Homo sapiens: one gene and its partner. The protein of the gene in region 1 interacts with the protein of each later gene in a biochemical or structural test. Each region holds a gene or a part of one and is shown on either strand. Other genes may lie near its edges.

Region 1 (9,252 bases):
TGGGCCTGGTGCTTCACTGTGGCTGGTGAACTTGTAACGCTATTTGTAATCAAGTGGCCCATGATTTGTAACACAGCCGACTTTGGCAGTTCCACTGTCAGTGCAGAGCATCCTTTCCACCTCAAAAAAACCCTTGGTCCTGGAAGTGTAGCCAGCAGAATAGAACGTGGAATTAGTGACTTTGAGAAATGAATCTTTTTGTGTTAAGGGTGAATTTGTTTCTGAAAGGCCCTTGGGAACATTTCTGTAGTTTGTTTGTTTTTAAGAAACGTCTTGTTTCTGATGTGCATCCAGGAGCGCTAAAGGGATATGTATATGCGGAAGAATTTTCCTTCTATATTGGATCCCTGTGTTTTGTGCAAAAATAAATCCTGCTTTCCTAGTTATTGCTTGGTGGCAAGATACATTCTTAGAAGATACCTTAATTACCTTAATTCTTGCAAAATGCAAAGGCTTACAGTTTGATGTAGTAGATTGAGACTTTAGGAATACTAATAATAGTTATAACATATGTTTATTGAGAACCTACTATGTGCCAGGAATTGTGTAGACATTTTATACACACAATTCTAATTCTTGCAAATAGCCCGGCAAAAAAGGGTCCTTCTTTTGTCCCTATTTTAAACATGAAGAATCAGGTTTTTATAGCAGGGCTTATAATGTTTCCAGAAAATACAGGATTGCCTTGTATAGCAGGGAATCCTGGCCTGACATGATTTGAAAATCATGCTGAATAGCATAGTGGTTATGTCCCCAAGCTTTGGAGTAGAAGAGACCTGGATTCAAATCCTAGTTCGGTAGTTTACTGTGAGATCTTGTTTACTTAACTTTTCTGAGCTCTTTTTTCTCATATGTAAAACAGAGATAATAATACCTACATCAAAAAGTTTGTTTTGAGGGCTGAATAAAATAGTGTATGTGAAGCGCTTTGCACTCTGCTGTGAAAATAGTAAATGCTCACTTAATGGTAGCAGCTATTATCTGCTTACTTATTTTAAAATAAGTTATGTCTTACTACTACCTTTTGGGTCATTTTCTTGTTCAAACACTGTAATTTCTGTACTGAAACAGAAAGATGTTGAAAGTTGAAGGAACAGTAGATACTTGTTAACAGTAAAAAGCAGCTGGACACTTAGTAGGCAATTGCTAATGGTAGCTACAACATCTTGAAGGGATTGAGTGTTGAATGTCCCTGTTACATGAAGCCAGATGGCTCCGGGACCACAGAATCTTTATGGTAAGATACAACAATGATTCTGTGGTCAGGTACAACAATGATCTGCAGAGGGTTGTTCGCTTAACGCAAAAGTTGAGTAACTGCCCGTTTTCAGTGTAGATTATGTTACATGTAAATGTGGTAGGGAAATCTCCATTGAGAAATGGAGAGTCTTGTAGTATTACAAGTCATCCACCCACCCACCCTCTGCCATTTTGGGGTTTGGCAAATTCAGACTTTCTTAAAGCAAAATAGCTTGGATATTATCCTCTGTCTTGTTAGGGTTCATCAAGGAAGGAAGAGAGAATATTGATGCTGCATTATGTACTTTTCTTAATGCCAGGATTCAGGCTGCAGTATTGTCCACTTCTGACTTCTGTTGCTTTATGGGTTGTATTAAGGTCTCACCCAACCCAAAGCATAGTACGTTATTGCTCTTGTATTTGCGGTTCACGCTGTGCCCTTGGAAATCCTTTGGATTTCTGGCTTAACTTGTGCTCCAGTTACAGGGCAGGAGAGCCCTCTTGTGGCCAGCTGGACGGTGGCTCCTTCCAACCTCTACAGCACCAAATGCGCAGATAACAATTTTTCAGGTTGTGATAGGGCAATTTTTCTCTTGGAAATAGCTCTAAGGAGAAAACCCCTTTGTCCAAATCATCACAGTGCTGTTCATTCTACACTCATCACAACTCTTTACAAGTCAGTTGAAATATAATATTTTTCAATATAAGTCCTGACCTAGTCACCAGGATCTGACAACAGCTAAATCTATCTGAGTAGATTATAAGAGTGTCTTGTTATTGTGACTGAGGTTTAAGATGGTGAGCTAGAGGCCGCAGAAAAAAAGAATTCCTTTTTGCCTTCTGTTTAACGGGAGAAGTTATGTCTTATTTTATCTTATCCAAATATTTATCCATAGAAGATGACAGATATATTGGAAAACATGTAATTTATTCTGCTTACTAGTCTTTCATGGTTTTTTGAGGTATGACCTTGATGAGAACATAGAATCTGTAATGTTATTATATTTCCAAATGCAATTTAGAATCACTCCATGAAACTTTGTGGCCTGGCTTCCTTTACTAAAGGTTTCTTACTGCTCTCTATTATTATAATTATTTAACAGAGTCTAGTTTTGAAAATAAAGAATAAAAGCCTTCCTCTTCAATCTCCCTTGGAATGCCACGAATTGCTATGTAATATCCTTGCTATCTGCATTTACCGGTCTCTGAAAAGGACCCCATACCCTAAATCCAATCTTAAAAATGGCAATAATGATATCTACTCTACAGGGCTGTTGTGAAAATTACAGCTAATGTAAGTGTAAGTGCTAATTTAGGTTTCTCAATGCTTCTCAATTAATATTTCACTCAGCATTTCTCAATAGGGACACTATTAGCTTTTCCAGCAGGGCAGTTTTCATTGTACAGATCTGTCTGGAGCATTGCAGGACATTAGCATCCCAGTAGTACTCCTATTCAGTCACTTTGACAACCAGAGACACCGCCACACATCCTCCATGAGAGAAGTGCTGCCCTCACTTGAGAATCACTGACATGTAATAGACAGCTGATTCGTGATAGGTGCTGCTCCTTGTACCATTAGAACTGCAATAGGAACACTTTGCAGGTTTGCTCTGCAGCAGAAATACCCATAGGAGAGCTCAGGCCCTTGTGGTCACAGTGACCACAAGCAGAGCCTTCCCAGCTCAGGATCAGTCCTAGGACCCTTGCCTACCTGGAACAGGGCTGTCGTGGCAAACCTGCCTGACTGGTCACCACTTTGGGGCCTTAGCTTAATCAAGGAGCAATATCCCAGCACACAGTACCTGAGGAACAAAACCCAAGAGTATTTTTTCAGGCAAGATCCTTTAGATTCCTGGTCCCCATGTGAGCTTATTTGTTCTGACCTGTGTCTGGTCTAAACTTGTGGTTAAAAGTCTATTCAGTCATTTGACAAACACTTATCTGTACCTGCTGTGTGCCAGACCCTGTGCTGAGCACTTTACATGTATGATTTCATTTCATCCTCTCCACAGTCCTGTGAAATGGATATTATCCATAATTTAGAGAGGAGGAAAATAAAGCTCAAAAGGTTAGTTAGTTGTCTCTCAGAGTCATGTGGCCAGTAGGTGGATGGGCCACATTCAGCCTCAGGGATGTCTGACTCCCAAGTCCATGCTCTTGCCCATCTTATTCCTCGCGCTGCCTCCCCAGTGAGTGGGACAGCTCCTGAGCATGGAGCTAAACACTGGTGAGGGAGACAGAATAGCAAGTGGCCTGGTGAGTGCCAAGACATGGAGGGTGTACAGGATACAATGAGAGCACAGACGGAAACTGGGAACCTGCCCAGCCCGTGGTGGGGGTAAGGGGGATCACAGAAGGCTTCCTGAAAGAGGTGATGCCTGAGCAGAGTCTTAGAGGAGGATTAGGAATGAATCATACTTCGAAGTGAGAGAAGAGTGTTCCAGGCAGATGGTCCAGCACATTCCAAGAGGGAGGGTGGCAACTTCTGGATATTGGGATTAATTTAAGGACAAGGACAAGAATGGCAAATGATGCAGTTGGAGACCTCTAAAGATGCCTAACTGGTTTCTCTTCTAGAATAGATCCTGTGGCCTCGTGAGTAACCCAGATTGTTTTCTTTTAGCCAGGGACAAGTGGTGGCCTTCAGACCCTCAGATCATATCGGAAGGGCTCTACGCGATAGCCGTCGTGCTGAGCTTCTCTCGCATTGCATACATTCTGCCAGCCAACGAGAGTTTTGGGCCCCTGCAGATCTCGCTAGGGAGAACTGTGAAAGATATCTTCAAGTTCATGGTCATTTTCATCATGGTATTTGTGGCCTTCATGATTGGGATGTTCAACCTGTACTCTTACTACCGAGGTGCCAAATACAACCCAGCGTTTACAACGTGAGTATCTGAGAGCTTTCCCCTGAGGTTCTCCCTGGGCTTCCTGGGAATCCTTGGGAGTCTCCTGAAGGTGGCTTCTTGCAGAGACTGCTGTTTCCTTGCTATCTCTCAAGGTTAAAGGCAACTTTATTCAAGGGTGGTTTAGAGTTCAGGTTCTGGAGTTGAACAGATGAGTTGAGTTAAATCCTCACTTTGCCACTTACATTTCGTGTGACCAGAGCATGTTCCCATTTAGAAAAAAAAAAATCACATGTAGGAATGCTACGTTTTCTAGGATTTGACATTCTCAGCAATCAGGAATTATTTCATAAATGGAAATTTCATAAATGGAAAGACCACTACTAAAAACAGAATGCCATTAATATAATGTTGTCTTTTGTTTCCAAAGTTGATAGACTAGAGTGATGTGAAAATAATAATAAAAGCGAGATATTTTGTGGTGGTAAACTTTGGGGGTAAAGTTAGGACTGCAATCCATGAGTTATCTCAGGGTAAACAATGCAGCAGCAAGCATGCTGGCGAGTATTCTTGGGGCCAAGGGGAAATGGGTTAACATCTCTGATACTTCATTTTCTTGTTTTTAAAATGGTGATAATAATAGTACCTTCTTCATAGAGATTGTGCAAGGATTCAGTGAGATGATGTAACTCACGTAGTAAACTCAATATGTGGTAAAAAAAATTATTCTTACTGTTATTATTGTCTTAGCCTGTGTTGCCTAGAAAACAGAACTCTGGGTAAAAGTTGCATGCTAACACTTTATTAGAGTGAGGGAGTTGCAATCTAAGGGAAATAAAACTGAAGGAAAAAGGAAAGTGAAGAATGGGAAGAGGGGAAGCAAGTACAAAGTGCTGCTGCATGAGAGGTGTGTGAAGTGAAGATGGGGAAAGCAAATCCAGGCAGCTCCCTGGCCACTGCCCACCAGAATACACAGCATGGGCATGATGGACCTCTCCAGGGGGACTATCTGGAAAGACCACATCTCAGAATAGCCCATCAGGCTGAGAATAGAGAATTTATCATCCAGATCAGTCCCATCTGCTGTCTCTCATTAGTCACTCCATAGGACGTTAACTCACCTACACTTCCAGGGAAGCCCTGGGGAAGCCATATCCACACAGCATGGGAGGCAGGTCTGCGAGTGGTTGCAGGTCACTGCTCTCCATGCCTGGCTGGGCAAGCCAGGTCTTGTGTGTGGACACCCAGCAAGTCCTGCAGCATCATGTGCCTCTGCAGCAGGAAGGAAAGCCCATGTGAGAGAGGCAGGAGGCATGCAGCCTGAGCATGAGGCAAGACACTGAAATTGGGGTCCAGAAGTAGCTGCTAGGGGTGCTCCAGAAAGCAGGCAGAGTAACACAATGGCATGCACATCCCCCACCGTGGAAGTGGTGATGGAGCTCTCTAAGCCTGTGTCCACAAAGATCCAAAGCTCCTCCCCTGGGGATGGGCACGGGGCAGGATGCCAGATAGTCTCCTGGAGGGCCAGCCATCGGTAGCACCGAGAAGGGTCTAGTGGAAGAGTGTGGAAGACCTGAATATACTTCCTGACACAGGCATATACTGGCCGGTGAACTTAAGTCATTTGATTTATCTGAGCCTCTGTGTCCTCGTCTATAAAATGAAAATAAGGTTTCCCACCTTATTCACAAATACCTTTATGGATAAATGAGGATGTTTACATAAAGTGCCTGAAACACAGAAGTGTTTCCAGTCCATGTCCTGCCCCAGACCCACTCAGTTCCAGAACTTCTCCTTGCCTTCACCAAGCTCTTGGCCAAAGTCTTGAAAGGAGGATAGTCAGGTTTTCAGCCTTGTGGAATCCCAGCACAGCAGCCAGGATCAATGGGGCTAAGCACTTCCTGACACTTGTCCCCAGGAAGCCCTGAGTGGCCTAGAATGTCAGTTTTCCAGCTAGTAGAAATGGCTCTGATCCCTGCCCCTCAGACTCCCTGAGCAATTTCCAGGTTGCAGCAGGGCCTCATCTTACTCTTCTGGAGAAATCACCCATTAAGGTAAGATACTTGTCTCTGAGAACCAAGTACAATGAATTCTGTGCCACTTAGCTCAGAATTATGGACTGCGCTGCCCCACCCAGCTGAAACTACCTAAAAGAGTGGGACTCTGGTGCTGCTGAACCACAGAAGCTGTTACTCCCTGAAGCAAAGTAGTTTGTGTGTCAAGAGAATAGGTGCCAGGCCCAGTGCTGAGAAATGCACCTGAGAGGTGCTTGGCTCTGCTCCTCGGCCCACAGGCTATGTTGGAGCCTTGGTACCCCATGGACCGACAGACTAGGTTTCAGTCTGAGCTCGGCCTCTTACTGACTTTGTGGCCTTGGGCAAGTGCTTAAATCCCTTGGGCCTCAATTTCCCCAGCTCCAAAATGAGAATACTAAGAGAGCCAACTTCACAGGATTGTTGTAAGGATCCAATAAGAAGAAATACGACCAAATGCAATGCTTGGCATAAAGTGAGCCTTCAATAAATAGTAATGATGATAATGGAGATGGTGAATAATTTATCCTCAGGGGAGAATAAATTGCAAGAAAAGACACCTGAGTACTGAATTGGTCTATAGCGCCCTTTCTGGGCAGTGGTCTAGCTTACACACTGTCCACCAGCACAGGCCAAGCACATTGTTGAATCAGCTGGACTACTTTATATCACTCCAATACTTAGTGATTAACTGCTGAAGGAATAGAATAAGTTTCAATCACCCAAAAGCAAATTTGCTCTAGATCTGCTAAAGGTAAAACTAAATGTATCCACTCCACATGGGATGCATTGCTACTGAACATGGAGAGGATGTCAGCCGATAAACGAAGGCTCTTACTTTCTGTGATCAGACCCTGGTGTCCCTCCTGTGTTTCTAGCCTAGCATGGTGCCTTGCAAAGGTTGTTTGCTCATTAAATGCTTTATGAACAAGAATGAGGGAATAAACAGGAGAAAGGAAGCCAGAGTCAAAGTAGTCAAATAAACAGTAGACTGGGCATTTGACAGTGTGCACTTCTATCCTGTTCCTACTGCCCAGAGTATTCTCTGCAATCCCTCTCTTCCCTCCTCTACGGAGAGCCTGTATCACCAGCCCACAGTCCCTCACTCCCTCAGAAGATCAGTGCCATGACACACAGAAAAATGACAAAGGGGCCAGGCCTGGTAGCTCATGTCTATAATCCCAACACTGGGAGGCTGAGGTGGAAGGATCCCCAAGAGTTTGAGACCAGCCTGGGCAATACAGTGAAACCTCATTAAAGAAAAAAGAAGAAGAAGGAGGAGGAGGGAGAGGAAGGAAGGAAGAAAGAGAGGGAAGGAGGGAGGGAAGGGAGGGGAGGGGAGGGCGAAAGAGAGAGAGAGAGAGATTATGACTTTAGAGTAGGGCTGACCTAGCCACAATTCTCAACTAGATGCAGCACAGCTAACCAATACAGGGAGGAAGGCAGGTGGCCTGGGTTGGGGTCTTTGGGATTAGGAAGAGTGATGGGGAAAGGCAAACTGAATGAAGATTTCCTAGACACAAGAGACCCAACCAAGAGGACCCCAGACCTTCTAGGAGAGGGAAGAGGATAAAGGGTGGGGAGGCGGCAAGCACAGTGAAGAAAGGATGGGAGATTTATCGCCGTGGCAGTTCCTGAAATGAGATGTGTAGCTGTGAATAGGATTTGATTGAACAGAAAAACAGTCAATAGAGCAGTGAAGTGGAGAGAGAAAAGAATGGATTTTTGTAAATGTCATCTTTTACCTTTTGACTGCTCTCCGGTGCATGTCACCCCCAAGAGATCTTCTTTGTTAATTAAAAAAAAAAAAAGCCATGTGAGAATAAATGAGACTCGTGCCTTAGGATACTCAAAGCTGTTCTGAGTGCCAGCCATGCTGATGATGAAGTCAAACAACTTCACTCAGGTGAATGTTTGCTCCAGAGCAGCCCATCCCCAGGCTGCCCTGCCCAGCTCATAATCTTCCCTTTGACCCACCCACAGGTGAGTGGCCTGTTCTCTGTGGAATTTTGAGCTTGTAGGGTAAGGCAGGAGTCTATAGAACTCAGCATCTGTTTCTATAGACTCGGCAGACCCAATTCTACAGAAGGGAAATTTGGGTTGGAGCACACTGCAGGTATCCCCCCAGCCCCACTTTTGACCTCCCCCCAACCCCATTCCTGCCACATCCAAGGGCAATTGGAGTCTCTAAAGACTGTTCAGGAGTCCACTTCGAAAGTCAGCTGTTAGAAACCTACAGGGAGCTTTTTCATATGAGCTCTGCTCACCCTAGGGGTGCAGTCCCAGGCCAGCTCACAAAAACCAGTCTCACCATGTTGTAGCACTGTCCCAAGGGGAAGAGGAAGGGCAAGCATTCTAAGACAGAGGGAAAGAAGAGAAGAAAGACTTCTCTACTAACTGCAGCCCCAACCCTCAACCAAGGCCTGCCCTATCGCCCAGTGTCTTCCAGTTCTAAAATCACATACCGCCTCCCTCCGGCCACTCCCAGATTCTCATTTTCTCCATCTGGCAGACCTCAATGAAGAGGCTAGAAGAAAATGGATGGATTAAATTGGTTTAGCCCAAGGTGTGAATAAATATACAGTATGAGCAGCCTTAACAGAGCAGTGGTTTTCAAACCACATCAGAGTCACCTGGGGAGGTGGCTAAACGTGGGACTTCCCAGGCTCTTCCTCTTAGAGAGTCTGATTATAGTAGTTCTGGGTAGGACCCAGAAATCAACATTAACAAGCCCCTGGAGGATTCTGGTACAGATGGTCTAGGATCACAGTATGAGAAATGCTAATCTGATCCAACCTCATCATTGCACCAATAGGGAGATGGAAGTCACTCTCAGCTCTTTGTACTTCAAAAACAAGGAGCTTGTTAACTTAAGTGAATATCTTATTAGTAGGATTTCAGGCTCTATGCAGGCAATTTTTTTTAAGCACAAGCTACTGAAGAGGTAGCCAGATCCAGTGGGAGCAAGCCCCAAAGTCAGATCCTATTAATAGTTCCCAATTTTTCAGCCTCCTTCCTCTTCAGAACCAAGAATTTTCTCAAAGGTCTGGGTTGTTTTTCATAGCCACTTCTGTGTCCAGTGCTGGCCTAAGGGGAGGAGCATGGGTCACTAGTTGGTGAGCTGGGGCCTG
Region 2 (7,000 bases), on another chromosome or scaffold:
ACCCCAGCCGTTCAGGGCCACTACTGGTCTCCGCGTCTTGATGGTAGTGGTCACCCCGGCCCAGGTGTTTTTTCTTTATCTCTTTGTCTTGTGCTTTTATTTATTACAATCTCTCATCTCCGCACATGGGGAGAACACCCACTAAGCCCCGTAGGGCTAGACCCTACAACTGGCCACCACTCCACAGATGCAGGCCAGCCCCAAGGAGGCCACTCCAACAGCAGGCACTGTCAGAACACTGGGATGGGCTGGTGGTGGGTGGGAAGCCTGGGGGGCCCTTTCTCCAGATAGCCAAAGTCACACCTACTAGGCGGAATGTTAAGAGAGAAACCCAGATTCACTGGTTGGGGCTCCTGGCTCATCAGAGAAAAGAAATTAACTCCTGCATCCCTGCAAAAGCAACCATTTCCTTTACCTCTACATATCTTTACCAAGAATCCACCCTGTGCCAACCAACGGGGGGCCAGACAGTATATGGAATATATAGAATTTTAAAACAAGTACAGCTAAAGCCTTCAGAAAGCTTAAAGTCTAGAAAGGACAATAAGCCGCACACGCAGAGAACCCAAATAGTCTCTCCAGGAAGAATGGAGATAGCAAGAACAACTAAACTTGGCCCAGTAGAAATAAAGGTCGGGGCCAGTGTGCCACCCTGCCTCTGCCACAGGCCTGGGTTTCTGGCTGTCAGGGTCAGGCGGGCTGTCTGACAAGTCCTGGGGTCTCTACAGCGGTGCTGGGTGCATGGGAGGACATATCTGTAAGGCCAAGGAGAAGAAAGACAGGGAGCAGGAGACCAAAGGGAAAGCTGGGAAGAGAGGGAGAAAAGGTGCAACCATGGGCCGCCAGCCAGCCCTTGCCTCATATATTTGGCCTGCCAGCCCCAGGCTTGTCTCCCACTCTCCATAACCCAGAACTGGACTCTCTCAGTCTTTCTCACTTGACAGAGTAACTGAGGCTGTAGGACCCTCAGCAGGGCAGACCCTCAGGCCAACTCGCCCTGGCTCCAAACCTCCGCAGAGCTCTCTGGGAAACAAAGCAACAAAGGCAGCCCTGACAAATCAATCCAGAAAGTGAAGCAGCCTACACCACAACCCCGCCTTGCCAGAAACTCAGTGTTCATGGTGGAAAAGGAGATGAGGGCGGGGCGCTGTTTTAGATTAAAGGAAACTGAAGAGGCATAAGAAAATGTAACACGAGTACCTTGACAGGATCTCGATGGTTTTTCTTTTTTTTTGACGGAGTCTCACTCTGTTGCCAGGCTGGAGTGCAGTGGCACGATCTCAGCTCACTGCAACCCCCACCTCCCGGGTTCAAGTGATTCTCCTGCCTCAGCCTCCCGAGTAGCTGGGACCACAGGCATGTGCCACGATGCCCAGCTAATTCTTGTATTTTTAGTAGAGACGGAGTTTCACCACGTTGGCCAGGATGGTCTTGATCTCTTGACCTCGTGATCCGCCTGCCTCAGCCTCCCAAAGAGCTGGGATTACAGGCATGAGCCACTGCGCCTGGCCTAGGATCCTGATTTAAAGAAACCAATGGTCAGGCCCGGCGTGGTGGCTCACGCCTGTAATCCCAACACTTTGGGAGGCTGAGGCGGGCAGATCACCTGAGGTTAGGAGTTCAAGACCAGCCTGCCCAACATGGTGAAACCCGTCTCTACTAAAAATACAAAAATTAGCTGGGCGTGGTGGCTGGCACTGGTAATCCCAGCTACTCTGGAGGCTGAGGCAGGAGAATCACTCGAACCCGGGAGGCAGAGGCTGCAGTGAGCCGAGATTGCACCATTGCACTCTAGCCTGGGCTACAAGAGGGAAACTCCATCTCAAAAAAAAAAAAAAAGAAACCAATGGTCGGTCAAACACAGACAACCTGGGCCCAGTGGCTGTAATCCCAGCACTTTGGGAGGCCAAGACAGGAGGATTGCTTGAGCTCAGGAGTTCGAGGTTACAGTGAACTCTGATCACACCACTGAGGACAATGGGCACATCTGACTATGGATTGGGCCCTGAATGCTATTAGGAAACTATTAATTGGTGTGATCACAACACTGTAGTTACATAGGGATGTATAATAAAATATTTAGAGGTGAAAAAGATGCAATGTATGTAATTTATCATAAAATACTTCAGCAAAAAATACAAATATCAAATGTGACCACTGTAAACAATGATTAAGTCTAGGTGGTAAGCAAATTGGTGTTCTAAATGCTTCCCACTACTTTTCCTGAATTGTATTTATGCCTCAGGCTGTGAGAGCATAGGTAAAGGCCAGGGCCACCCAATGTAAGTGATCTGTAAAGTCTACCCACTGCCATCATCATCATCATCTTTGAGACACAGACTTAATTTTCCCTCCCATTACCTATATCACCCCCATCATCTATTTCTAGACTCATACTGGAGAAGAGGGCTCTCCTGCACTGTGCAGGAAGGGCTAATGGCTGGCTGGCTGGCGGGCTGGCTGGCTGAGCGATGGGGAGAGCAATTTGCTAACCAAATATGCACAGGTGTCTGCCTCAAGCACCTGCAGCTGCTCCTGGACTGAGATTTGTGTTGACAGCCCCTTCCGGCTCTGCCCACCTGCTGACCAAAAAAACATAGCACTCTGGCCATTTTACTCCCTCACTGAAGCCTCTGCAATGAGTCTCTCCTGACTGTCTCCCCAAGTGGAAATCCCTCTGTAATGTGGCATGTGGCTCCACCCAGTTCCATCCCCAGCCCACACCCTGGACTCACTGTGTTGTGAACGCCCAGCCTCATTTCTGCACCCACGATTTCTCTCACAGTCCCTAGCCTGAAAGGCCCTACAAACTTCTCTTCTCAGTCCCCTGCTGCGTGACCCCAAGCTCTCCAAGCCAGGTGTCCTGACTGCAGGGAATTGTGACTGCAGGTACAAATGCTGGGTGTCACTGGCACCTTTCGCATGACCAGCCTGACATACCCAGGGGGCTCAGAGCTCACATTCAGAGGCCTGTGATGAACTTAGTAGAGATCTGCGTTCTGCTTTCCTCCTTCCCCCACCCCAGGTTTCTTCCCTTCCACTCACACAGCCCTCACTCCCAGAGAGGGGTGTCCCAGCCCCACATGGGGTGAAGTCTAGAGAGCAGGGCTGGGGGTGGACATGCAGGGACTCCAGGCATGTGTGCAGAGGTCATCCAAACCCAGAAACCTCCCCCTAAGCTGAAAACAGAAAGCTGGTGTGGCCCCACCCTAAAACTCAGCATGTGTCCCCACCCCCAACCCAAGCCACCGCCCCAGTGGGCCAAGCTAGGGAGGGGATATGGGGTCAGGAATGTAGGGCAGGGCAGAGTGTAATCAAGTGGCTCCAGCAGGATTCTTTCAGGCCGGCAGGATTCAGGCCGAGCAGTTGGATGCAGCCTGAGACCCTGGAGTCTCAAGGTGGATGTGTGGCACTGGTTCTAGGCTGAGCCAACCCCGCGCCACCCCCTCTCCACTTCATCCCTTCTCCATCACATCCTCGCACTGCCTGGGAAGTGCCTAGTACCTAACCTTGAGGGCAGAGGCTGGTCTTACTCCCCACATGCTAGTGCAACACTCACACATGACATGAATCATGTCTGACCCTCTGTGGCACCAAGTTCTGTTCCTATACCCCTCCACCACCACAGAAACACAAAAAGTTAGACAGCCTAAGAGTTAAAGGTGTACCTTGTCTTTGATCTCCATTTCTGGGAACGTATTACCTGAGAGGATAACTATAACTAGACAAGTGTTCAGGCATGCATGCACTAGGATGTTCAGGGCAAATTGTTCTTAACAGCAAAAATTTACAAAGAGCCTGAATGTTGAATACTAGAGTTGCTTAAATAAATTAAGGTACAGCATACCATGGCTGTGCAGCCATAACAATGGTGTGTTGGCATGGGAAAATACAGCTCACTATATATATGCAAAAAAGGACAGGGTACAAAGCCATACGTGCAGTTTGATATTGTTTGTAAATGTTCATTTATGAATATAAAAGGCTAGAAGGTCATAGGGAATGTTCATGTAAGCCATAGTGGTATTACAGATCATTTTTTTGAGTTTTTCACATTTTCTCCATGGAATGTATATTTTTTTTTAATCTGAAAAAATATATATATTTTCAAAAAATGAGTTGCATGGATTAGGCTAAGACCAAGAATCTGCCTTGAGGTACAGAACAGAAGTCTAACATCTTCTTCCAATGAAATCACAATTAAATGAAAGCCAAGCCGGGTACAGTGGCTCATGCCTGTAATCCCAGCACTTTGGGAAGCCGAGGCAGGCAGATCACCTGAGGTCAGCAGTTCAAGACCAGCTTGACCAACATGGAGAAACCCCATCTCTACTAAAAATACAAAAAAATTAGCCGGGCGTGGTGGCACATGCCTGTAATCCCAGCTACTCGGGAGGCTGAGGCAGGAGAATCGCTTGAACCTGGGAGGCGAAGGTTGTGGTGAGCTGAGATTGTGCCATTGTACTCCAGCCTGGAAAACAAGAGCAAAACTCTCTCCAAAAAAATAAAAGAAAGAAAGCCAAGACAGGTCTGAAATCCACCCAGGGAATGCTATCAGCGAGGGAAAGGCAGTCCCCTGCTCCTGGAATTACATGTGTCTCAGACTTAAGGCTCAAAGGGCCCCACTGCACAGAACGGAACAAGCTGGACCTGTGCCTTGGGTACCACTGATTCTGCAGTGCCTAAAACAGTGCCTTGCCTAGCACATGGTAGATGCCTAATAAATGTTTGTTGAATGACATTATGAAGTCTGATGAGGGCAAAGAGATGGGCCTTCTGGGCTGAGGGGCAGGTAGACCTAGCAGGCAGGCTTCCTCACAGCCTGTCAGCCTGGGAGGGCCCCCAGATCAGGGATCCCGGCCCCAGGTACTCATTAAAACCACCTGGAGAACTTTTTAAAAATCTAACACCCAGACCTTAGCCCTAGAGATGGTGATTCAGTTGGTCTGGCATGGGACTTGGGAGCTGAAATTTTTTTTTTAATCCCCAGGTGATTCTCAGGTACAGCCAGAGCACCATAGAGGATAATGCAGGCTGACGGAAACTCACTCTGAGAAGGCAGGGCCTTGTTCAAAGCATCCAGCAACGGCCAGGCACGGCGGCTCATGCCTGTAATCCCAGCACTTTGGGAGGCAGAGGAGGGAGGATCACTTGAGCCCAGGAGTTTTAGATTAGCTTGGGCAGCAAGGGGAGACCCCATCTCTATAAAAAATACAAAAACTAGCCAGATGCGGTAGCACACGCCTGTAGTCCCAGCTACTCGGGCGGCTGAGTTGTAAGGATTGCTTGAGCCTGGGAGATTAAGGCTGCAGTGAACCCAGATCACACTACTGCATTCCAGCCTGGGTGACAAAGACCCCATTTCAAACAAAACAAAACAGAAACCACCCAACAAGTTGGTGATGGAACATGAGACAGACACCCTTCCTGAGAGCTATGCCTCTGAGGTTTCCGACCTAGGGATCCTGAGCCTGGAGACCTGGGGCTTCGTCTATATTCACCCCCATACTTCTTGGGTCCTGACCTCCAGGGAAGCAGGTCAGGCTGGCAGGTAGACAGAGAATCCCATGGGTAAGAGGCAGCATCTCCTACTCACTATGATTACCCAGCCCTGGGTGATCCAGGTCCAGAGGCCCTGAGAGCTCCAAATAGGCTCCAAGGCTGAGCCATGGGTGGGCAGAGGCACTTTGACAAATGTTGAAAGCTCAGCTCCAAGACCCAGTTCACCTGCACTCCCCCAGTTTACTTTCTGTGGGTCTGGGGCTACCTCTCTGGGTACTCATAAGAGATCTTCGCCAGGCACAGTGGCTCGCGGCTGTAATCCCAACACTTTGGGAGGCCGAGGCAGGCGGATCATCTGAGGTCGGGAGTTTGAGACCAGCCTGACCAACATGGAGAAACCCAGTCTCTACTAAAAATACAAAATTAGCTGGGTGTGGAGGCACATGCCTGTAATCCCAGCTACTCGGGAGGCTGAGGCAGAAGAATCGCTTGAACCCAGGAGGCTGAGGTTGCAGTGAACTAAGATCGCCCCATTGTACTCCAGCCTGGGCAACAAGAGTGAAACTCTGTCTCAAAAAAAAAAAAAGAGATCTTCAAGAGATGACTTGAGATCCTGATGGGTCCACCCTGTGTACCCAAGGCCAGTTCTCCCTAGCCACTGGCCTGAGGCCACATTCAATCCTCCACTTTTTGTTGGCCCTAATCAGCTACTCCATCCCTGGCCTCTGCTGCTCCCACCTAGGGTAAGGGATAAAGCAGTGGCATTGGCCTTGCTCTCCTGCCAAGAACAGGCGTGGGCCTGCTTTCCCTTGCTGGCCGGCTGGCAGTCTCAACCGCTCCTGGATCCACTACCCAGATCCCTCCCATCCTTCCCACCTAGAGTTAATGTACAATCTTCACTAGGACCTCTAATTCTCCAGGAGGCTCTAATTGGCCTCGTCCACTTTGCACTGAAGAGCTCTGGCCAGAATCTGAATGCTGCCTCTGCCTCCCTCCCCAACTAATGCCCCCTTCCCATCTCCCAGGTGACCTGGCCCATCTGCCCACCAAGGCCACCCCTGCCTTCAACACATTCATTTTTATCCAGCCCTTACTGGGTACCTCCTGGGGCCCACACACTGGGCACTGGGTTAGCCCAGGAATTCAGTCAAATCAGCCTATGGGTTCACAGACATGGGCACCAACAGCCTCGGGAAAAGCAGAGGGGACCAGAGTTCAGAAAGGAGGCAGAAGGATTCTGAGGAGGATGGGGCAGAGAGAAAATCACTCAGAGCAACGCTCCTCACACTTTAATGCACCAGTCCCCTGGGGATCTTAATAAAATGCAGATTCTCATTCAGTAGGACGGGCACGGGGTCTGAGATTCTGCATTTCTGACAAACTTCCTGGTGACGCTGAAGCTGCTGGACTGATTACTTACAGCACTTACAAATCATTCCTTCTTTGACTCTTAACTTCCAAGGAAGCAGGAAGCACAGCTCCCTTAATCACCACCAAG

What was found.
Region 2: the proteins of TRPC7 (region 1) and ITPR3 form a complex in vitro, tested with the Homo sapiens proteins (one study listed by BioGRID).

What each region holds. Positions count from the first base shown.
Region 1 is NC_000005.10:136,242,349-136,251,600, reverse strand, and holds part of TRPC7 (short transient receptor potential channel 7), read left to right. Parts: intron 1-3,865; coding exon 3,866-4,130; intron 4,131-9,252. UniProt on the Homo sapiens protein: Forms a receptor-activated non-selective calcium permeant cation channel. Probably is operated by a phosphatidylinositol second messenger system activated by receptor tyrosine kinases or G-protein coupled receptors. Activated by diacylglycerol (DAG).
Region 2 is NC_000006.12:33,624,322-33,631,321, reverse strand, and holds part of ITPR3 (inositol 1,4,5-trisphosphate-gated calcium channel ITPR3), read right to left. Parts: exon of another isoform or gene 6,932-7,000; intron 1,285-6,931; exon of another isoform or gene 938-1,284; intron 79-937; exon of another isoform or gene 1-78.